Homo sapiens: one gene and its partner. The protein of the gene in region 1 purifies or fractionates together with the protein of each later gene. This does not show direct contact. Each region holds a gene or a part of one and is shown in the gene's direction. Other genes may lie near its edges.

Evidence for each region. The genes of interacting proteins can lie anywhere in the genome.
Region 2: the proteins of TANK (region 1) and TNIP2 purify together in Homo sapiens (affinity purification with mass spectrometry; 3 studies listed by BioGRID and IntAct, with this or other methods). This does not show direct contact.

Annotation. Positions count from the first base shown.
Region 1 is NC_000002.12:161,156,329-161,163,452, forward strand, and holds the start of TANK (TRAF family member-associated NF-kappa-B activator), read left to right. Parts: upstream 1-4,099; 5' UTR 4,100-4,158; exon of another isoform or gene 4,159-4,222; coding exon of another isoform or gene 4,223-4,494; intron 4,495-4,620; exon of another isoform or gene 4,621-4,959; coding exon of another isoform or gene 4,960-5,084; exon of another isoform or gene 5,085-7,033; coding exon of another isoform or gene 7,034-7,124.
Region 2 is NC_000004.12:2,741,148-2,746,368, reverse strand, and holds the end of TNIP2 (TNFAIP3-interacting protein 2), read left to right. Parts: intron 1-833; coding exon 834-923; intron 924-1,423; coding exon 1,424-1,672; intron 1,673-1,862; coding exon 1,863-1,982; intron 1,983-3,848; coding exon 3,849-4,112; 3' UTR 4,113-4,721; downstream 4,722-5,221. UniProt on the Homo sapiens protein: Inhibits NF-kappa-B activation by blocking the interaction of RIPK1 with its downstream effector NEMO/IKBKG.

The DNA of each region.
Region 1 (7,124 bases):
TGTTCTGTGTCCTTACAGACTTAACTTATCCAACTTTGGTTTTATTTCACCTTGTCTCTAGTTCCCTCCTTATCTTAGTCTAATAGCTTATCATGTATTTCATCTCTTTTTGCATAGAAAATACAAAGCAGATTCTCTCCATATACTTCTGCTTCTGGTAAATAATTTTCCAAAGTATTCACTTTCTTTGTATTTTGAAGACTCTCTTTCAGACAGCATAATCTTTTCAAAGGGATGCTTTCTCTTGAATTACTCGTTCCAAGCCTTGTGTCAACCTTACTACCTGAATGTGTGGATTTTGGTTCTTGGCTCTTCTCATTATCTGTCTGATGCTATTAAGTTCTTCAGCATAGATGTTGAACTGGAAGACATATAGACATGCACAGTCAACAGCTAACTTTTTGGTTTGAAGCTGACATTTATCAACTTTGTCACTGCGGGTGTTGGGCTGAGGTGAGATTCCTTACCTTTAATAGCTAGTTATTTTACTATAAAGAGAAGAATTCCTGGTTAATCAGAAACAATGATTTGTCTTTTTCTTGATAAGAACCATATATGAAAAAGTAAACCCCCAGAGAAACAAACACCCAGTTCTGTCTGCCCAACCCCTTTCATTATTAGTTTCCTAAGCTTGGACACAGAGCATTACACCTATCCACTCCCTTTGGGTTATTGCTGGTATTCTCTAGGCCGTAGCTCCAAAATGGGTCATAGAGTGGAGAAACTAATGGGAGAGATTAGGGCAAAGAGGTGTAAAATACTTCTTAGCCATCACACATAGTAGTGGAATTACTAGTAGGGGCCGTGAGGCAGGTAGCTTCCTTACTATCCTTCCATACCAACACCTTTGATTGCCTTCCAACAAAAAAGTACATGTCCATTTCAGCTTCACAGTTCTTGCAATAAGTCCAGTATCCTATCAAATTCTGGAACTAGGGTGCTTGTCAACAGGGTTATAGCTGCTCTTATGGTACTTTTCTGTGAGTTAGAAAAAGCACCTCTCTGAGAAGACACAGGCTGAAGGAGGCAAGGCTTTGCAACTGAGCACAGCCTGCTCAACCATACACAGTGGCCCTGGTTGTCAGTCTGCCTTCCAAGGCCATTGTGAGTTCTCATGTTTTTCTGATTTTTCATAGCCATTTTAGTTGGAGAGTCTGCAATATAATCAGCCAGTCCAGATGTCATCGTAAATCAGAAGTCAACCAGATTCCATTAATAGTGATATTGCACATCAAAGATTTGACTGAGAACATAACTGACATTCCAAGTCATAGTAACTGTTTATATTGCCAGGTTTCCTTGTCCTTAGGTTTATATTCAGAAGTCTCAATAAATTATTAAGCAGTTTTAAAACTAGGATTCAAAATATTTTTGAGACAGAGTCTCTCTCTGTTGCCCAGGCTGGAGTGCAGTGGCGTGATCTTGGCTCACTGAAATTTCTGCCTTCCGGGTTCAAGTGATCCTCCTGCCTCAGCCTCCCATATAGCTGGGATTACAGGTGTGCACCACCAAACCTGGCTAATTTTTGTATTTTCAGCAGAAACGGGTTTTCACCATGTTGGCCAGGCTGGTCTCAAACTCCTGACCTCAAGTGATCAGCCCGCCTTGGCCTCCCGAAGTGCTGGGATTACAGGCGTGAGCCACTGCACCCGTCCAGGTTCCAAAATATCTTTTAAAGGCCTGCAATTCCCTCATTTTCTTTTAATAATAATTCATTAATTAATATTATTAAATAGAGACGTGGTCTCACTATGTTGCCCAGGCTGGTCTGAAACTCCTGTGCTCAAGTGATCCTCTGCCCTTGGCCTCCCAAAGTGTTAGGATTATATGTGTGAGCACCACACCTGGTCAGTTCCCCATTTTCATGCCACCATACCCAACCTCCAAAGCCACATCACTGCTCACTAACTTGAGGTATATAATAATATGAGTGAAGGAAAATTGGAATAAAATTATGTCATTATTTTAAAAGATTATTCCTCAAATAAATGTCAACTCAATTTCTAACCTTTGTAAAACATACTGTATGTGAATTCTTAAAAAATCATCATTATAGGAAAAGGAAAATGTTTGATGCCATTTTAGCATTGATTACAAAATAATTCTACCAGCATTTATGCATATTTCACATACAGGGGAATTATGCAGCCACTTCTCTTCAAGACTACAACATCATGGAAGTGGAAAGAGAAAAATACGCATTTAAGAAATGTGTATATCTAGCTATTTCCTTATTCAAAGTTTTTAGCACCTCCATATTTCAAAATGCCTATGCATTCAGCTTTAGACTCTGAGTATATTACTAAATTCCACTATTTCAATCAGAAATCTTCAAATCAGCTTATTTAATTTGCTCAAGCAGTGCTGAATAAACTGGACTTCATCAAAATTAAGAATTTCTGCTTTGCAATAGATATTGTCAAGAGAGTAAAAAGACAAGCCACAGACAAGGAGAAAATTTTTTGCAAAAGACATATCTGATAAAGGACTTATCAAAAATACAAAGAACACTTAAAACTCAACATTTGGAAAACAACCTGATTAAAAAATGGGCCAAAGGCCTTTACCTCCCCAAAGAAGTTAACCAGATGGTAAATAAATAGCCATATGAAAAGATCCTCCACGTCATATGTCATCAGGGAAATGCAAATTAAAACAACAATAAAATATGACACACATCTATTAGAATGGCCAAAATCCAGAACACTTACAACACCAAATGCTGGCAAGGATTTGGAGCAACAGGAACTCTTATTCATTCCTGGTGGGAATGCAAAATGGTAGCCACTTTGGAAGACAATTTGGCAATTGCTTACAAAACTAAACATTCTCTTACCTTATGATCCAGCAATCATACTACTTGGTATTTATCCAAAGGAGATGAAAACTTATGTCCGCACAAAAAAACCTGCACACAGATATTTATAACAGCTTTTTTTCATCACACTGGGGTGAGGGATGTTGATAATGGGGAAGGGCTATGCTTGTGTCGGGGCAGAAAGTATATGGAAAATCTCTGGACATTCCTTTCCATTTTGCTGTGAATCTAAAACTGCCCTCAAAAAAAGTTTAAATAATTTTTTTAAAGCAGTACTGTATTGTGATGTTTAACTCAATTACTTATTACAAGAAAACTATTCAACTGGTCAAAACGTTATATATAAGAAGTTTCTGTTTGTTAAAAACATTGTTTCAAATATATTTAGGCTTTGACTTTTAAAAGTATACAGCAACATTCAAGATAACTAGACAGAATGCACTGCAACTTGGCAGGTTTTTAAATCCTTGGACTTACTGGCCTAAGGAAAGATGTGTAAACATCCATGATTCAGAAATACAGGGAGAAATTGGGGCAGCCAGACCTCATCCTCTTGCCCTAAAGGGAAAAGATATCTTTCTTGCGGTATCTAAGATATGAATCTTAGATAATATTCATGCATGGCTAGGAATTGGAATAATGGGAAAGTCTTAATTCATGGGAAATTTTCTAATAAAGTTCCACCTCCATTTCCAGCCATTCCTCTTTAACAAATACATTTAGTGAAAAATACTACCAGTTGGGGAGAAACCAAATGGGTATGTGTATATGTAGTGTTTCTCAGAGTGTGGACTTTAACCACGTTTAATTACATAAATTTACGAGGATCTGTTGAAAATGCAGGTTCCTGGGCTTCACTCCAGTTGCTCTGAAATGAAAGCTGTAGGAGTCGGTTGGTGAAACTACATTTTGTTTCTCAGGTGATTCTTGTGTACTCTAACTCATATATAGGGTGATGTTATTTATTTACTGGTTATTTATTTACCGGTTATTTATCGTTTGGCAAAAAAATCCAGCAAAGACTCACAAGTGACCTTTACACTTGACATAGGATTCTCTTCCGCTGCTGACGCTTTTTTTTTCTAAGAGGCGGGGACTTGGCTGGGCAGGGCTGGGGGAGGGCGCTAGGCGGGGCGGGCAGGGGCGGGGCAGAAGAGCCCTGGGCTGGGTGGGGCAGGGCGGAAGGGCCCTGGCCTTGTTGGGTGGAGGTGAAGAGTTAATGGCTCCGCGCGCAGGCACTGCCCTCTGAACTGGAACAAAATGCAACTTCCGGTTGGAGTCACTCGGCCAGGCGCCGGCGACCTGAGGGGAGAGGGAACGCAGCTGAAAGCGTGAACTGTGTGAGTAAGAAACTTTGTGAATTGGTGTGTCCGAATCCGTCAAGCACGACGTCGGAGAATTTGTATGCGTGAGCGAGAGGGACGCGCTGACAGTAGGGGCGCCGCAGGGAGAGAAGCCGAGGAGCAGCGGAGACAACCAATTTGCAGTTTGGGGAGGGATTTTGTGCGGGAGAAACCACGCGAGTCCTTCCCCCGGAGCGGACTCCTTGTGGGTTGGTTTCCGGGCCCGCGATGTCAGCATAGCATCGTCGGCCTCTGCCCCAACGGCTTCAAGGGAGGGACTCGTCCCGGCTGCTTTGCCCGGGAAATGGGGGTGGAAGGGCCTGCGGTGTCGAGGTGAGCAGTGGACCCTCCAGGAACATTCCCGACTTCCCTTCGGGAGAGAGACTGCCTCCTAGAATCAAGTAGTATCGTGGTTACTCTTTCGAAAACTTAATTGGTTCTTTCTGTTGTTTTCCCAAGGTGGTTGCACAATTCCCCTCTGCCTTCCTGTGGGGTGTCATCATAGCCTGGTCAATGAGAAGTTGGGTAACTTCCCAGAGGGTCACGGAGGGAGTGGGTGGCCAAGGCAGGAAGAACAGAAGCCAACCCCGCCCACAGTGGGAACCCAGGCGTTAGGTAGAGTCCTCACGCCGGTGTAAACTGACTAGCAACGAGTTACAGGCAAAAAAGCTGTGCTTTTCTAGAAGTAGAAAGGGGGAGGATAATCAAAGAAGAGCTGTGCCTTTATTGTTATGCTATAACGAGCAAAAGTAAAGCAGCCTTGCTATGTAAAGTGGTGTTTATCTCACCTCACAGGAGATGCTTTTGACAAGTTATAATAAGGGAGAGATGGTAGTAAAGGAAGTGAAGAAGCGACGTGAAATTGAAGGAAAAGAAAATGACCTGCCTTCTTACCGCGGTTGGAATACACACCCAAACGAGAGGTAGCAGAGAAGCAAGCAGTGCATTCTGTTAAAAATTATTGTGTCCTCATTTGAGAGAGGAGGGATCCTCAAATAATACAACTATGTGCAAAGCAGGAAGTGAAATCCTTCTCAGTCCTCTCCCCAGTTGTAATCCAAGCCTTCCACATCTTTCCTGTATGTGCATAACCATGTTATTTTGCTTTCTTATGAAAATGAGATTATGCATACTGTTCGATAATCTGTTTCAGATTAAATATATATATATGGTGAAAGTCTTGCCATATGTAGCTCTATTTTATTGTAATGTTGGCGTGGTACTGCATTGTGTAGATGTACCAAATTATAGTTAACTGTCACTTACTATGTCCTGTCCGTATATATTGCCCAGTATTCTTCAAAATTATCTGTTTCTCATTAGACTACAGATTTCATTAATCCTTTGTGAAATATATGGCAAATATTTTCAAGAATTATCAATGCTTTGGTTTAAAATGCCCAGGCTTTTTATCTCAGGTAAGAAGGTAGTCCCCACTCAAAAATTCTTAAAATCTTCTCCTATATTGCCTGTTAATTCTCTTTTTATGATTTACTCATTAAAACATCTGAAAATGATTTTTGTATGCTAAGATAAGGATTTAATTTTTTTCTTTGTTTTTATGACTAGGCAGCCATTTTTTCCTGAAATCATTTGTTGAAATCATTTCTCTCCCAACTGACTAGAAATACCTCCTTAATATAGTAAATTCTCAAGTGTACATGCATCTTTTCTTTAGACTCATCTGTTGCTTTGATCTTTTTGTCTCTTCCTTTAAAAATACCAATCTGCTTTGATATTACGTTTTCTAGTAATTCATAGGACAAGTCCCTCTTCATTTTTCCTTTTCAAAATTTTCTTGAATATAATTGCATTATCTTTGAGATAAAATTTAACATAAACTGTTCATGCTTCATTAAAATACTCTTTTTGGGATTTAACCATTATATTTTCTTATATTTTGTGACTGGTATGTAGATGAGTGTTTATGTATCTGGCCAACTTTCTAAATTTATTAATTTTAATAAATTGTTTCACTTGAATTTTCTAGGAAAACAATCATCTAATTATAATTCATCTTATCTCTTTCTTTCTTTGCTTTAGTGAATTGCTGGCTTCCCCAGAATAGTGGTAAATAAAACAGTGATTCTGGCCATCCTTTATCTTGTTTCTTAGTTTGGGGATGTTTTTATTATGTCATCATTAAATATGAAGTTACTATTAATATCTAATAAATTATATTTATCAGGGAAGTTTCCTTTAATATTTCTAGCTCATTGTGATTTTTGCAGAGAACTGTTTGGATTGCATCCAAAGTCATTTTTGCAACTGGGGATGGGGAGTGTCTATTGTATTAGATAGCACTTTGAGAACAATTTTAAATAATAGATATTGGATGTTCATTTGGTGTGTATATTCATTACTTCTTAACATTTTTATCAGGAATGGAAGTTGGATTTTGTCAAATGGCTTTTTGACATCTATCATAACCTTTCATAGGTACTTTTCATCTTTGACCTAACAGGATAGTGAATTACTTTAGTATATTTGCAGTTTGTGAACCAATCTTACGCTTGGTCATGGTGTAATATTTAAGTATATATTGGTTCCTTTGGTAGCATTTTTATTTAAAATCAATGATTGAGATTCATTTTATACTCACCTTTTTCTGTTATTTTTGCTAGGTTTTGGTATCAAGGTTATGCTGGTTCCTAAAAAGAACTGGGCAGAGTTCCTCTTCCTCCGCTCTGATGTAGTTTAAATAGCCTAAGAACTCTGCTCTTTGAAGATCTGAAAGAATTCACTCATGAAACCATGTGGGTCTGGGAGTTCATTGTTCTTAAGACAGCAACAATACTCAGCAAAATGGTTCAGAACAAACAAAAACTCCTTGGAGTAAATACAATTGAATGAAAGAGTCTGGGACACGGTAATGTCAAGAACTAAGAACAGCTGCTGTACTGATGCTGGTTATTTCCCCCCTACACACAACTTTTTTTTCATGGACAAGGAAAAATGCTGTA
Region 2 (5,221 bases), on another chromosome or scaffold:
CCTCATCACAGTCTCTAAATAAGTGTCACTTCTCAGCCCTGAACTCAGCTGAGTCACCCGGGGCTTCCCGGTGTAGGCTGTGTTAGGACGTGCACTTCCTTTGTCATTTGAGGGGAATTCTCAAAAATTATGTCACTGAGATACAGTCAGAATTGTAGGGTACACACGAGTTTCAGGAGACTTTTCATTCAGCTCTGTAGTTGTTAGTGGGGGTTGGTTTGGGTTGTGGCTTCGGTGACTCCTGACCCTGCGTGGGGCAGAGGTTAGATTCCTGTGTCCAGAATCACCTGGTTGAACCCGATTGTCTGCAGACAGGACAGTGTCATGGGCTCCAAAGGAGGTAAGCAGGGTGCATGGCCAGGCCCACCCTGGGCAGCTGGGGGCCCCCTCACTGGAGATCCTCTGGTTTACAATGGGATTCAGCTTCCTGCCTTCCCTGCTGTCTGTGATAATGGCAAATCTCTGGCAATGAGAAGACTTTATCATGTCTGGTGTGCCAATCCCTGCAGACATTATGGCTTTAGAATATTTACATTCCAAATATTTAAAAGACAAACAGCTCAAACTGGTAGGTGGGACGGGATAAGGACAGTGTGAAAGGTGGTGTGGCCTGAAGACCTCCCATCCGGGCTCTGGCCTGGGCCAGGTGGGGTGGGCCTGGGCAGGGAGAAGGTGGTCCCTTGTCCCTGCTTTGCTTCTCTACCAAATGAATGATCACTACCCGCTGCACTGGGGGACGCAGTGATAATCTGTGGCCTCAGCCTCTGGGTCTAGCTTTCTCCCCTCTTGCTGTATGTGACAGAGTGTCTTCTCTCTGTCCCTTCCTCATGCAGTCGGAACACACAGATGGGCACACCTCTGTCCAGAGTGTTATTGAGAAGTTGCAGGAAGAAAATCGACTGTTAAAACAGAAGGTGACTCACGTGAGTGTCTTTCACATTTCGTTTGAGAAGAACACATGGCTTACAAACTGTAAGTGAGGGTTCTTTCCTTGGCTGATGCCCAGAGTCGCCCCCCGCCCTCTGGCCACTAGGACTTGATACACACAGTCCCTAGAGACTGGACTTTTTTGCTTAAAACGACGTACGGGACATGTCCTGTCCATCTCCATCCCCCTAAAATTAATCCACAAGTCAGTAAAGGAGATGCAAGAGTTAGCAGCAGGAGGTCCATTTTCTAAGACAGCAAAGCTGCACCGAGTCCACCTCCGTTCATGCTGCTTGCGTACGGGTGTCATCGTGCTGCCTCAGGATTCTCTAGCGGGCCTAGTGTCTGCTCTCTACAGAACAGGGAGGGGCAGCTTCCATTTAAGAGGAAACTCTCACTCAGCGAATCACTGCTAATACATAATTCACACTGGGTGCTGGCTTGAGCAGCTTTGTCAGCTGCCTTCACCGTGAGCTTTCCGGCTCCACCTCTTCAGGTTGAAGACCTCAATGCCAAGTGGCAGCGCTACAACGCCAGCAGGGACGAATACGTGAGGGGGCTCCATGCGCAGCTCAGGGGGCTGCAGATCCCCCACGAGCCCGAGCTGATGAGGAAGGAGATCTCCCGGCTCAACAGACAGTTGGAAGAGAAAATAAATGACTGTGCCGAAGTGAAGCAGGAGCTGGCGGCCTCCAGGACGGCCCGGGATGCTGCGTTGGAGCGGGTGCAGATGCTGGAACAGCAGGTGTCTGTCCCTCGGGCTCCGGACGGCACTGACCAGATGTCTGCTGGCCGGTGGTGGCCGAAATCATGGGACAGGCTGGGCTGAAGGCTTGGTGGCACTGAGTGGGCAGTGGTCACTGTGGGGGTGGGAGAAGCCTGGTGGGGCGCTTCCTCCTTCCTTGAGCAGAAATGTGTGTCTCGCCTCTCTTCAGATTCTCGCTTACAAGGATGACTTCATGTCAGAAAGGGCCGATCGGGAACGGGCTCAAAGTAGGATTCAAGAACTGGAGGAAAAGGTCGCCTCTTTGCTGCACCAGGTGTCCTGGAGACAGGTAGAGTATGAGGGCGTTTTTCTTCCTGCTTAGGTTTAGTGTTTTTGTTTCTCTTCTCATGAGATTAGAGCCTTTCTGTGTCTGCCAAGGCCCTGATTTGCTGGTGATGAGGGTTGTGGCGAGCCCCTCCCTGCTGTGGGGAGAGCCACCTGGCCTGGTACCTGGGCGTGGTCATGGAAAGCCTCCCTGTTATACTGTTTAGTTATGGAGGAGGCTGGCATGGCGGCCTGTCTTAGCAGAGGTGGCTGTCCTCAGGGCCCGTCCGTCACTGTCATGCAGTCAGAGAGCATATCTCGGGCCTCAAAGTGTGAGCTCCCTACGTGTCCTGACCTGTCTGTGAGACGGGAACCCCGCTTACCTTGTCATGTAGATGTGATGGCCCTGGGTGTCCAGTAACATCCCCAGCTCAGCCTGGCACGTGGAGCTGGGCCTTGCAGGGCAGGGGCCCCTCACCCCACCCCTGGGCTCAGTGCTTTTCCTACCATGGGGTGCCTTGAGGGAGGCCTGGCATGAATGGGAACCGATGAAGTTCCTCAGTGTGTGACCCATGGCCTCTTCCTTCTCCTCACTGACTTGTGCTCTGCAAAAATCCAGGAGAAGTTTATGTAGCTCCTCATCAAGTACCTAACACACTTTTGGCCCTGGGAATAGCCTGGGCCCCACTCAAAGAGCTTCCTCTCCTGGCACAGACTGAACAGTAGTGATGCCTCTTGAGAATCGATGCGTCCCGGGCTGGAGCTAGGACGTCAGCCGTGTTTCAGGGTGTGAACAGGGACCCTGGGGCTGTGAGGCCACCCCCCACTGCCCTGTTCCGAGCAGCCACTGGGCCTCAGTGGTTTCTGCTTCTCCTCCGCATGAAGGGCACGGGAGAGTCATGGTGGACTATGGGACTAACCCTGGGACTAAGTCTGCAGCAGAGGGCTGGACAGGTTTTTCTGGCCTTCATGAATTCAAGGAAGCATGTGATTTGGATTGAAGGAGCACTATTGGTACAATCGTGAGGATGGTCTCAGGCCGCCTCTTGAAGATTTTGGACCAGATGAACTGGTTCCAGACTTGCAGGCCCAGATTCTTACCCCCGGGGGTAAAGTTCCTGGTGGGGCCTGCAGACCTTGTACTAAGTGGCCTCTGGTTCCCTTTCAACAGTAGCCTGTGGCCCCTCGAGGGTTGCTCAGTCCCTAGATGGCACAGCCAGGGACAGTGGTGCTGAAGGCATGGGTGATAAGCTGTAGTCCCACTGGGGAAAGTCCACATTCAGACAGGAAGTGGAAGCACCAAGGCCTGCTGGAATGAAGTTCCCAGGCAAGCAGTGAGGGCCACAGGCTGCAGTGCTTCAGGACGGATGTTTGGAGAACATGTGCCAGATCATGCCAGGTGGTTGGTGGGGCCAAGCCAGGGACACCTCTTGCTGCTACTGAAGGACCCCCTGAGCCCCAGAGTGCTCAGCACCCCCAGGCCCCACAGAGGAGGTGCAGAGTAGGGTTGGTACTCAGTTTGCCCAGCTCCCCACCAGAGGCTCTGCCACCTCCACTCTGTGGTGGCCTGTGGGCCACGTCATCAGGGCCACCTTCTCAGTCAGGTCTCCTGGGGCCGATAGGTCCAACTGAACAGGACTTCCACCAAGGGGCTGGGGGGTGGACCACGCCAGGGCCTACTTCTTCATGAGCACATGACGGAGCGTGTGTGTGATCCTCAGTCATTCACTGAGCGCCCCCTTGTCTGGGCTCTGGGGCGCAGCAGGAAGCAAAGTGAGGGGCTGAAGTTCCGCTCAGGGATAGGTGAAGTGCCTCTGGTTGCTGGAACCTGAGACCTGGCTTTGTGACCGTCAGCACAGCCCACGTATATACACCCTTGCCTTTTCTCCAGGATTCTCGAGAGCCAGACGCCGGCCGGATTCACGCTGGGAGCAAAACTGCCAAGTATTTGGCCGCCGACGCATTAGAGCTTATGGTGCCTGGTGGCTGGAGGCCTGGGACTGGGTCCCAGCAGCCAGAACCCCCTGCAGAGGGCGGGCATCCTGGCGCGGCCCAGAGAGGCCAGGGGGACCTTCAGTGCCCTCACTGCCTGCAGTGCTTCAGTGACGAGCAAGGGGAAGAGCTCCTCAGGCATGTGGCTGAGTGCTGCCAGTGACCGAGACTCACCCGTGCCCTTGCGGCCTCCTGGCCCGGTGCAGCTGCCCTCAGGGACAGGGTGGGTGCTCTCAGATGCCATGGGTTGAGCTCTACTGAGAGCCAAGGCCCCTAGAATAGTTGCGGGGCACTCTGATCGTTCACTTTGGTCCCTTTGGCTATGGAACAGGCTGGGTCACAGGGAACTGCCAGTGAGGCTGGAGGCTGGAGGTGGAGATGGGGTCAGGAACATCTGGCAGAGGGAGGTCCCAGTCTGTGTCTCCATCAGGCTTAAGCCAGAGCTATCTGGTGCTGGTGTGCCAGCCCCTCCCCCAGCCTGCCTAGAAAGGGGTGGCTGCCTGAGGGAGTCACTTGTATGGTCCCCAGGGTGGGAGCCCCATCCTGTTCTATGGAATAAAGCGTCGCCTCTCTGCCTCGAACCAGTCAAATGGAGTATTGCGGCTGCACGTCACACTAGGGTGGCCACCCCCGCCATTGCGAGCCACATGTCTGCACTGAGAAACTGCATTTCAGTAGCATTTGTCATCCAGCCGGAAGTTAAAGCACACTTACTTTATTCACCTATTTTTATAATAAACGTTCTTGCTGCTGTGACTGCTCTGAGAATTTGTGTTGGAAGCTGGGGTGCAGGGACTGAACAGTATTTACAGCAGCTGGCATGGGAAAACACTCCTGCTGTTGCCTTCTGCCAGGGCACCAAGACAAGGGGGTCAGTGGGAGCCTGGCTGTATTAGGGTTCTCTAGAGGGACAGAACTAATGGAACAGATAGATATATAAAGGGGAGTGTGTCAAGTATTAACTCACACGATCACAAGTTCCCACAATAGGCCGTCTGCAGGCTGAGGAACAAGGAGAGCCAGTCCCGAGTTCCGAAACTGAAGAACTTGGGAGTCCTATGTTCAAGGGCAGGAAGCATCCAGCACGGAGCAAGATGTAGGCTGGGAGGCCAGGCCAGTCTCTCTTTTCACGTTTTTCTGCCTGCTTTATTCTGGCCACGCTGGCAGCTGATTAGATGGTGCCCACCCCGATTGAGGGTGGATCTGCCTTCCCCAGCCCACTGACTCAAATGTTAATCTCCTTGGCAACACCCTCACAGACACACCCAGATC